Linked DNA regions of Homo sapiens. The protein of the gene in region 1 interacts with the protein of each later gene in a biochemical or structural test. Each region holds a gene or a part of one and is shown in the gene's direction. Other genes may lie near its edges.

Region 1 (3,818 bases):
CAAATCGGGATGAGTCTGGTCCTGCTCATGGTCCCCTGAAAAGAAAAGTGTGACAAGGTCTCCAGCGATGGGAAGGAGCAAGTAGTTTTTGTCTCAGTGGGGGAGGTTATTTCTGACTTGGGACCAACTCAAAGGAGACCTGGTGTGGTTGTCAATACCCCAGTGGGACCTGTCTTCCAGTGTCACCCACCCCGGAGCCACACCTGCCACTCTCGCTGATCCTCTCTGTGGTGACCTCTGCCCTCGTGGCCGCCCTGGTCCTGGCTTTCTCCGGCATCATGATTGGTGAGTGCACAGAGCCCCAGGGACTCCCAAGGGGGCAGGAAGGCAGGACTGAATAGTGTCTCAGGCTGTGCCACAGGTGCCAAGGTGTCACTTCGTTATGCTAGTCCCTGGAATTGGGTGGGGTGGTGATTAGGGCAGCCCAGGCCAAGCCAAAACGGAAGCTCCCAACCTTCCCCCCACCAGAGCAGCTGCAGTTCCCTGAGGAGCCCCTGATTCTGCACCTCAGCCCCGTGTGTATCCTCCTGGCTGATCAGGGGGTGGGGAGCTCCTTCAGTGTCCATCACGATGGTGAAAGCTCGCCCCCACCCCTAGACGTCACTTCTAGCTCCCACATGCTTCCACCGGCGCAGCTCCTGTTTGGCTCCCACCCTATGTAATGCACTAGCCCACTCTTCCCCAAACCAGCCCTCCACCACCCTCCAGGCAGAGAGATAGGAAAATCGGTTTCTGAGTATATTTCTGTTCAGCCTGTGAGCCAAGGTGAGCTGACCTGCAGGTCACAGAGAACTCAGTGTGGTCCCAACCAGCTCTTACTGCTGGCAGAGACATGCCCAGGACAGATGGGCAGAGGCTTGAAAAGGGCAGAGGGAAAGGCTCTTGAGAGCCCTCGCAGGCCAGGCCCCTGCAGGCAAAGGGATCTGCCGGTAGAAGGGAGATGGCAGCACACACTGTGTCCCCATATGGTGCCATCCCTCAAAGGGACAGGATAATAGGAGCTAACACTTGTTGCATGGTTACTACGTGCTCGGCAATTTACACATTTCAATTCATTCGATCCTCAGGTAACCCTAATCTGATCACGGTCGGTCCATTGCATAGAGGAGGGAACTGAGCACATAGCGGGTGACTCATTTGCCCTGGCCCATGTGTTGGGGGGCTGGGCTTTACACACAGAATCTACCCACTGAATCACAATTTTGTTCTGGCTTCCATGGAGTTTGCCTTCCAGAACATCCTCACATGTAGGAGTGATAATGGTCACTCACATTGGTAGAGCTCTTTAGGATTTTTCAAAACCATTTTATGTTGGTGAATTCATTTCATTGACAACCCTAGAGGGTGGGGAGTGGCAGTGGTTAGGGAAACAGGGCAGGAGTTACCATCCCTGCCTACAGAGAGGGAAACTGCAGTCCAAAGAGGTCCTGTGACCTGGTCCTCATGGCTCAGCTTGTAAGTAACAAGAGGCGGAATTAGAGCACAGATCCCCAGACACCAATTCAGAGATCTTTTCATGATGTGGCTCTTCTCCAACTCTGTGGCTTGGCAGTTCTCCAACTATAGGAAACACAACTGACCAAGATCCCAGCTGCACCCTCAAATCCACTGCTGTGATTGCACTGAAGCTGCCCTACCCAATGGCTGAGCACAGCAGAAATACTAAGGCAGGCCAATTCCTGGGAGTCATGGGACTCCTCTGATGACTGACTTTGGCTCCAGAACCCCTTAGGGCCTTGCTGAAACTTCCTTAGGCTCCATGGCACCCAGGGTGCTTCCACCCAACCTTCCCTCCCTCCCTCGTTCACGTGGGGTTATACTTGCAACACAGTCTGCTGGTTCACCCAGCCTTCCCTGGCTCCCTCCCCATTTCCTCTCATGGGCATTTCTTCTAATAAAATCTGCAGACCATATTGGGTCTAATCCCATCTCCAGTCTGCTTCTTGGAGGAACCAGACTAACATGACTCTGCCCTATATAATACAAATAATTATTTTCCATATATCTGATTTTTAGCTTTGCATTTACTTTAAATCATGCTTCAATTAAAGACACACCTTCTTTAATCATTTTATTAGTATTTCTAAGTATGATGGAAAGGTTCAGAGCTCAGGGGAGGATATGGAGATCCAGGGAGGCTTCCTGTAGGAAGTGGCCTGTGTAGTGCTTCAAGGGCCAGGCTGCCAGGCCATGTTGCAGCTGACCACCCACCTGCAGTGTACCGCCGGAAGCACCAGGAGCTGCAAGCCATGCAGATGGAGCTGCAGAGCCCTGAGTACAAGCTGAGCAAGCTCCGCACCTCGACCATCATGACCGACTACAACCCCAACTACTGCTTTGCTGGCAAGACCTCCTCCATCAGTGACCTGAAGGAGGTGCCGCGGAAAAACATCACCCTCATTCGGTGAGCGCCCTGCTGCCGTCCTGGGAGGAGAGGGGTGCAGTGTAGGGGCTGAATGTTATCACAGCACCGCAGACTCCTCTAGCCACAAAAGGCCGGCAGAGCCCTCCCTATGGGCACCCCTAGCCCTCCTAGGAGGACAAGCCTTGACATTCAGGGCCATGTATGTTGGCTTACATTAACTCCCATAGTTTATGGAGTTTATACAATGAGAGGAGAACCAGGGCTCTCCTCAAAATTCATTCAGATGTGCTCTCTCCAAGTCTACCTGGCTCCCCTTCCCTCCAGGGGAGCAGGGGAGCAAAGGGCCCCTCCTCTGAGCATCTAGAGCAACTGCGCCTTCCTCTGTCACTCACTGGAAATACTCCCCAGCCAGTACCCACAGTGATCTGTCTCTCCCCAAGGAGCATGAACCTCCCCCGGGGAAAAGCCATGGCTTATGCACCCCTGTGTCCCTGGCAAATATCAGAGACTCAATAACTACTGATTGAATGAATAAACATTTGACCATTGTCATGAGTCCCTGGTTGGAATCCTTCTTACCAGTTTTCAGGTGAAGAACTGGAAGCCCGAGATTGCATAGCAAAGCCATGTTGAGGGTATTACTCCTGAGTGTGTATGTTACCCCCGCCTCTCGTGTTTGTCCACTAAATGTGACGCCCAGGCTCAGGACCCCCAGCTGCCTCATTATTGTGGCCTGTTTGACTCTGTCTCCTCTTGTCTTCTCCTTTGCACAGGGGTCTGGGCCATGGCGCCTTTGGGGAGGTGTATGAAGGCCAGGTGTCCGGAATGCCCAACGACCCAAGCCCCCTGCAAGTGGCTGTGAAGGTAAGAAGTGGCTCACTCTTGAGCCTGCCCTTGGCTTGCGGACTCTGTAGGCTGCAGTTCTCAGCTCACAGCCTCCTCCTCCTCCCCACCCTCCCCTTCTCTGCCCAGACGCTGCCTGAAGTGTGCTCTGAACAGGACGAACTGGATTTCCTCATGGAAGCCCTGATCATCAGGTAAAGCCACAGAGAGACACCCTCACCCCAACTCCCCTCTGCCCCCAAAGAACCTGGAGAGGTTTCTAACAGATCGATATCTCCAAGGGAAATCGTGTTGTCCCTAGCATGTCCCCTTTTCTCCAGTAGGAGACTCCCAAACATTCTAGACACTTCTTACCAGAATGGAACAACCCTTGATGGTTGTTTCAGAAACAAAGTCTGTGTGGCCTAATAATCCCACCGATGTCACTGTCTGCAACCAGTATCCCTGCTGTTATCCACTGGTTCTTCTTCCCTCACTTTTTCTTAAGAAATGGAGCATGCTAGACTTTGACAGTACAAGATATAATCTCCCTCCAAGACCCTTCACCAATCCCAGTAATTGTGCTTCTAATATGATGGGAGGCCACCCCATCCTAGGCTCCCATCAGCAG
Region 2 (3,818 bases), on another chromosome or scaffold:
TTTCTTGTTTAATTATGCATGAAGTAGTGCTAGTGGTTTATTTGGGGAAGGGAGATGTTGCCAGTTCCTTGAATGTGATTCATAAATTATTATGTAGGTAAACTCTGATCAGTTCCTTTCCTGAAATGTCTTCTCATTTTTCTCCCTAGTTCCAGAGCCTGTTAAGGATCTAACATTGCGCAACAGGAGCACTGAGGACTTGCATGTGACTTGGTCAGGAGCTAATGGGGATGTCGACCAATATGAGATCCAGCTGCTCTTCAATGACATGAAAGTATTTCCTCCTTTTCACCTTGTAAATACCGCAACCGAGTATCGATTTACTTCCCTAACACCAGGCCGCCAATACAAAATTCTTGTCTTGACGATTAGCGGGGATGTACAGCAGTCAGCCTTCATTGAGGGCTTCACAGGTAATGTGAAATACTGTTCTTGAACCTGAATAGATGCAGTGGTGCATTTAACTTTCGGGTAGTTCAGGTATTTCGATTGAGCATTTGGAGGGATAAAAGGGAGACAGCAAGAAGGGACAAAGTCATGTTGATAGTGACAATGATGTTGTCCAACCTGGATGAATGAAAATAAAGTATGATGTCAGCAGAGAGTGGCGGGGTTGGAGGGTGCTTTCAGAGAAATAGCAATGAACTGATGTGATCAGCTGGTGCTTCTGAGGCACACAGATTAAGAATTAAGTGTTACTTGGGTATCACTTCTTTAGAACTCTTTTAGGAGTGTTGCCATAGTAGTTAACATGTACTGACAGTTCACCATGAACCAGACCCACAGCAAAGCATTTTATGTCTACATCTTGTTCAGTCTTCACAATGCTTTGGAAGCCAAGGCAGGAGGATAGCTTGAGCCCAGGAGTTCAAGCACAGCCTGGGCAACATGACAAAACCCTGTCTCTACAAAAAATACAAAAAAATTAGCCGGGCACGGTGTTACGTGCCTGTAGTCCCAGCTACTGGGGAGGCTGAGGTGGGAGAATCACTTGAGCCCAGGAGGTATAGGATGCAGTGAGCCATAATCATGCCATTGCACTCCAGCCTGGACAACAGACAGAGACCCTACCTCAAAAATAAAATAAAATTAAATTAAAAAAGAATCAATCTTCACAACTCTATGGGCTGGTTAGTATTATCATCACTGCCATTTTTCCTAATGAAGAAACTAAAACTTACAGAGGTCAAGTAATTTGCCTGTAGTCCCACAGCTAGTGAGTGAGAAAACCAAAACTTGGACCAAGACACCCTAACTAGCCCCTCGCTATATAATTAGCATTCCTCATTTCCACTCACCGGCTTTGACTTCCCCCTAAGCTTTCCCCCATCAACTTTAGTTCACACAGAAAAATCAGAGAAAAGTGGCAAATTGTTACTTTCTTTTTCATGTGAGTTCTCTCAGTGGGTGCCAAAACATCAGAAGCATTCAAAACTTTGTTTGAAAATTTCAACAGTTCATTCTCTAAGTGATGACTTTTAAATTTATTTTCTGTTTTAGTTCCTAGTGCTGTCAAAAATATTCACATTTCTCCCAATGGAGCAACAGATAGCCTGACGGTGAACTGGACTCCTGGTGGGGGAGACGTTGATTCCTACACGGTGTCGGCATTCAGGCACAGTCAAAAGGTTGACTCTCAGACTATTCCCAAGCACGTCTTTGAGCACACGTTCCACAGACTGGAGGCCGGGGAGCAGTACCAGATCATGATTGCCTCAGTCAGCGGGTCCCTGAAGAATCAGATAAATGTGGTTGGGCGGACAGGTAAGCATCCACCTGGAGAAGGGCTAGATTGTAGAATGCCTCATGGTTCTCCAAAATGGGACAGTGAACGGGCTCAGCTATTCACAAATCCAGATTTAAAACCACCAAAGTTTGTACAATTCAATGGTTTCAAGAGCCTTACTCATTTATTCTTTGTATTTTTCTCTTAATAGAGATCTGCAAAACAAATGAAAGGGAATCAGAAACCAAATCATTTGAACACATTTTTATACTTGCTAAAGGATAATAAAATTTTAAATTTTAACAAGCAGGCTGGGCACAGTAGCTCACGCCTGTAATCCCAGCACCCTGGAAGGCCAAGGCAGGTAGATTGCTTGAGTTCAGGAGTTCGAGACTAGCCTGGGCAACATAGCTAAACCCCATTTCTACTAAAAATACAAAAAATTAGCCAGGCGTGGTGGTGCACACCTGTAGTCCCAGCTGCTTGGAAGGCTGAGGTGGAAGAATCACCTGAGCCCGGGAGGTCAAGGCTGCAGTGAGTCGTGATCGTGCCACTGCACTCCAGCCTGGGCAACCGGAGTGAGACCCTGTCCCAATAAATAAGTAAATAAATAAATAAATAAATTTTAATAAGGAGACTTCCATAATTATGCATTTTTCAAAAGTTCTACCTTTTAAGAAAGAGTACACATCTGTGCCATCTACTTTACCTGGTAGAGCTAAAAAAACAAGTATCAAATGTATGAATAATATATCTGTTTATATCAATATCACTATTCATGTATTATTTTTGAAAGATCTCTAGCCATACTATAGTTCTCTTACAGATGAGGAAAGAACAGTTCAGAAAGCTTGTAAAACAGTATCAAGGATACGTATATAACAAGACCTAAAGCTATAATTCAAGTCTAGGTCTGTCTGGCCCCAAACCTCGTGCCCTCTCCACTGTGACACAATACTTCTTAGATGTCTCCCATTCTCATGACCACTTATTTAGTTGTGGGGTCTGGGGCTTCTATACCATGCCCTACTATGCCTCTATTTCATATCTATATTTATATCTATATCTGCATATCTTTAACCCTATGACAAATCCTGTGTTAGAAGTGGGCATTCGGGCCAGGCGCGGTAGCTCACGCCTGTAATCCCAGCACTTTGGGAGGCCAAGGTGGGTGGATCACAAGGTCAGGAGATTGAGACCATCCTGGCTAACATGGTGAAACCCCGTCTCTACTAAAAATACAAAAAATTAGCTGGGTGTGATGGCAGACGCCTGTAGTCCCAGCTACTCGGGAGGCTGAGGCAGGAGAATGGCATGAACCCAGGAGGCGGAGCTTGCAGTGAGCTGAGATCATGCCACTGCACTCCAGCTTGGTGACAGAGTGAGACTCTGTCTCCAAAAAAAGAAAGTGGGCATTCAGTAGCAAGGCAAAGCCCCTGACCTCAAGAACCTTATAATCTAGTGAAGGAGATAGAAAAGTAAAAAGGCAATTACAGTAAAACATGGTACGTGCTAAGAAAAAAGTGGTTATGAGATGTTAGAGGAGCAAACAAGAAGAGTCAGGGAAGGCTTTCAGGAGGAAGTAATATTTAAAGAAAGACTAAGAAGTCATCCAGGTGAAGTGTAAGTTGTCTTCGTTCCAACAGAGAAAACAAAGCCCTGGAGGTGAGAGAAAGGATGGCACATTTGGGAACCTACACCTTTTTTAGTATACTAGAATAAAGGCCGGGCACGGTGGCTCATGCCTGTAATCCCACATTTTGGGAAGCTGAGGTGAGTGGATAGCCTAAGTCCAGGAGTTCGAGACCAGCCTGGGCAACGTGGCAAAACCCCATCTCTACTAAAAGTATAAAAAGCAAAAGTATACTAGAATAAAAAATGTGAGGCATGTGGCCAGGTAAGTAGAGAGACCAAATCACAAAGAGCTTTGTTTGCCTGTGAAGGTGTTTTGGAATTATGGAGAGCCACTATAGGGCCATTAGCATGGGAGTGCTATGAAAATATGCTAGATAGAGTCTGCAGATTGAAAGAGTAGGAGGTAAGGACACAAGTGACTGGTCAATAGGCAGTTGCAATAATGTATGGTCTCATT

What was found.
Region 2: of the proteins of ALK (region 1) and PTPRB, one has a biochemical effect on the other in vitro, tested with the Homo sapiens proteins (one large-scale study listed by IntAct).

What each region holds. Positions count from the first base shown.
Region 1 is NC_000002.12:29,221,928-29,225,745, reverse strand, and holds part of ALK (ALK tyrosine kinase receptor isoform 1 precursor), read left to right. Parts: intron 1-180; coding exon 181-285; intron 286-1,922; exon of another isoform or gene 1,923-2,217; coding exon 2,218-2,404; intron 2,405-3,138; coding exon 3,139-3,229; intron 3,230-3,337; coding exon 3,338-3,402; intron 3,403-3,818. UniProt on the Homo sapiens protein: Neuronal receptor tyrosine kinase that is essentially and transiently expressed in specific regions of the central and peripheral nervous systems and plays an important role in the genesis and differentiation of the nervous system.
Region 2 is NC_000012.12:70,567,621-70,571,438, reverse strand, and holds part of PTPRB (receptor-type tyrosine-protein phosphatase beta), read left to right. Parts: exon of another isoform or gene 1-149; coding exon 150-413; exon of another isoform or gene 414-1,500; coding exon 1,501-1,764; exon of another isoform or gene 1,765-1,941; intron 1,942-3,818. UniProt on the Homo sapiens protein: Plays an important role in blood vessel remodeling and angiogenesis. Not necessary for the initial formation of blood vessels, but is essential for their maintenance and remodeling. Can induce dephosphorylation of TEK/TIE2, CDH5/VE-cadherin and KDR/VEGFR-2.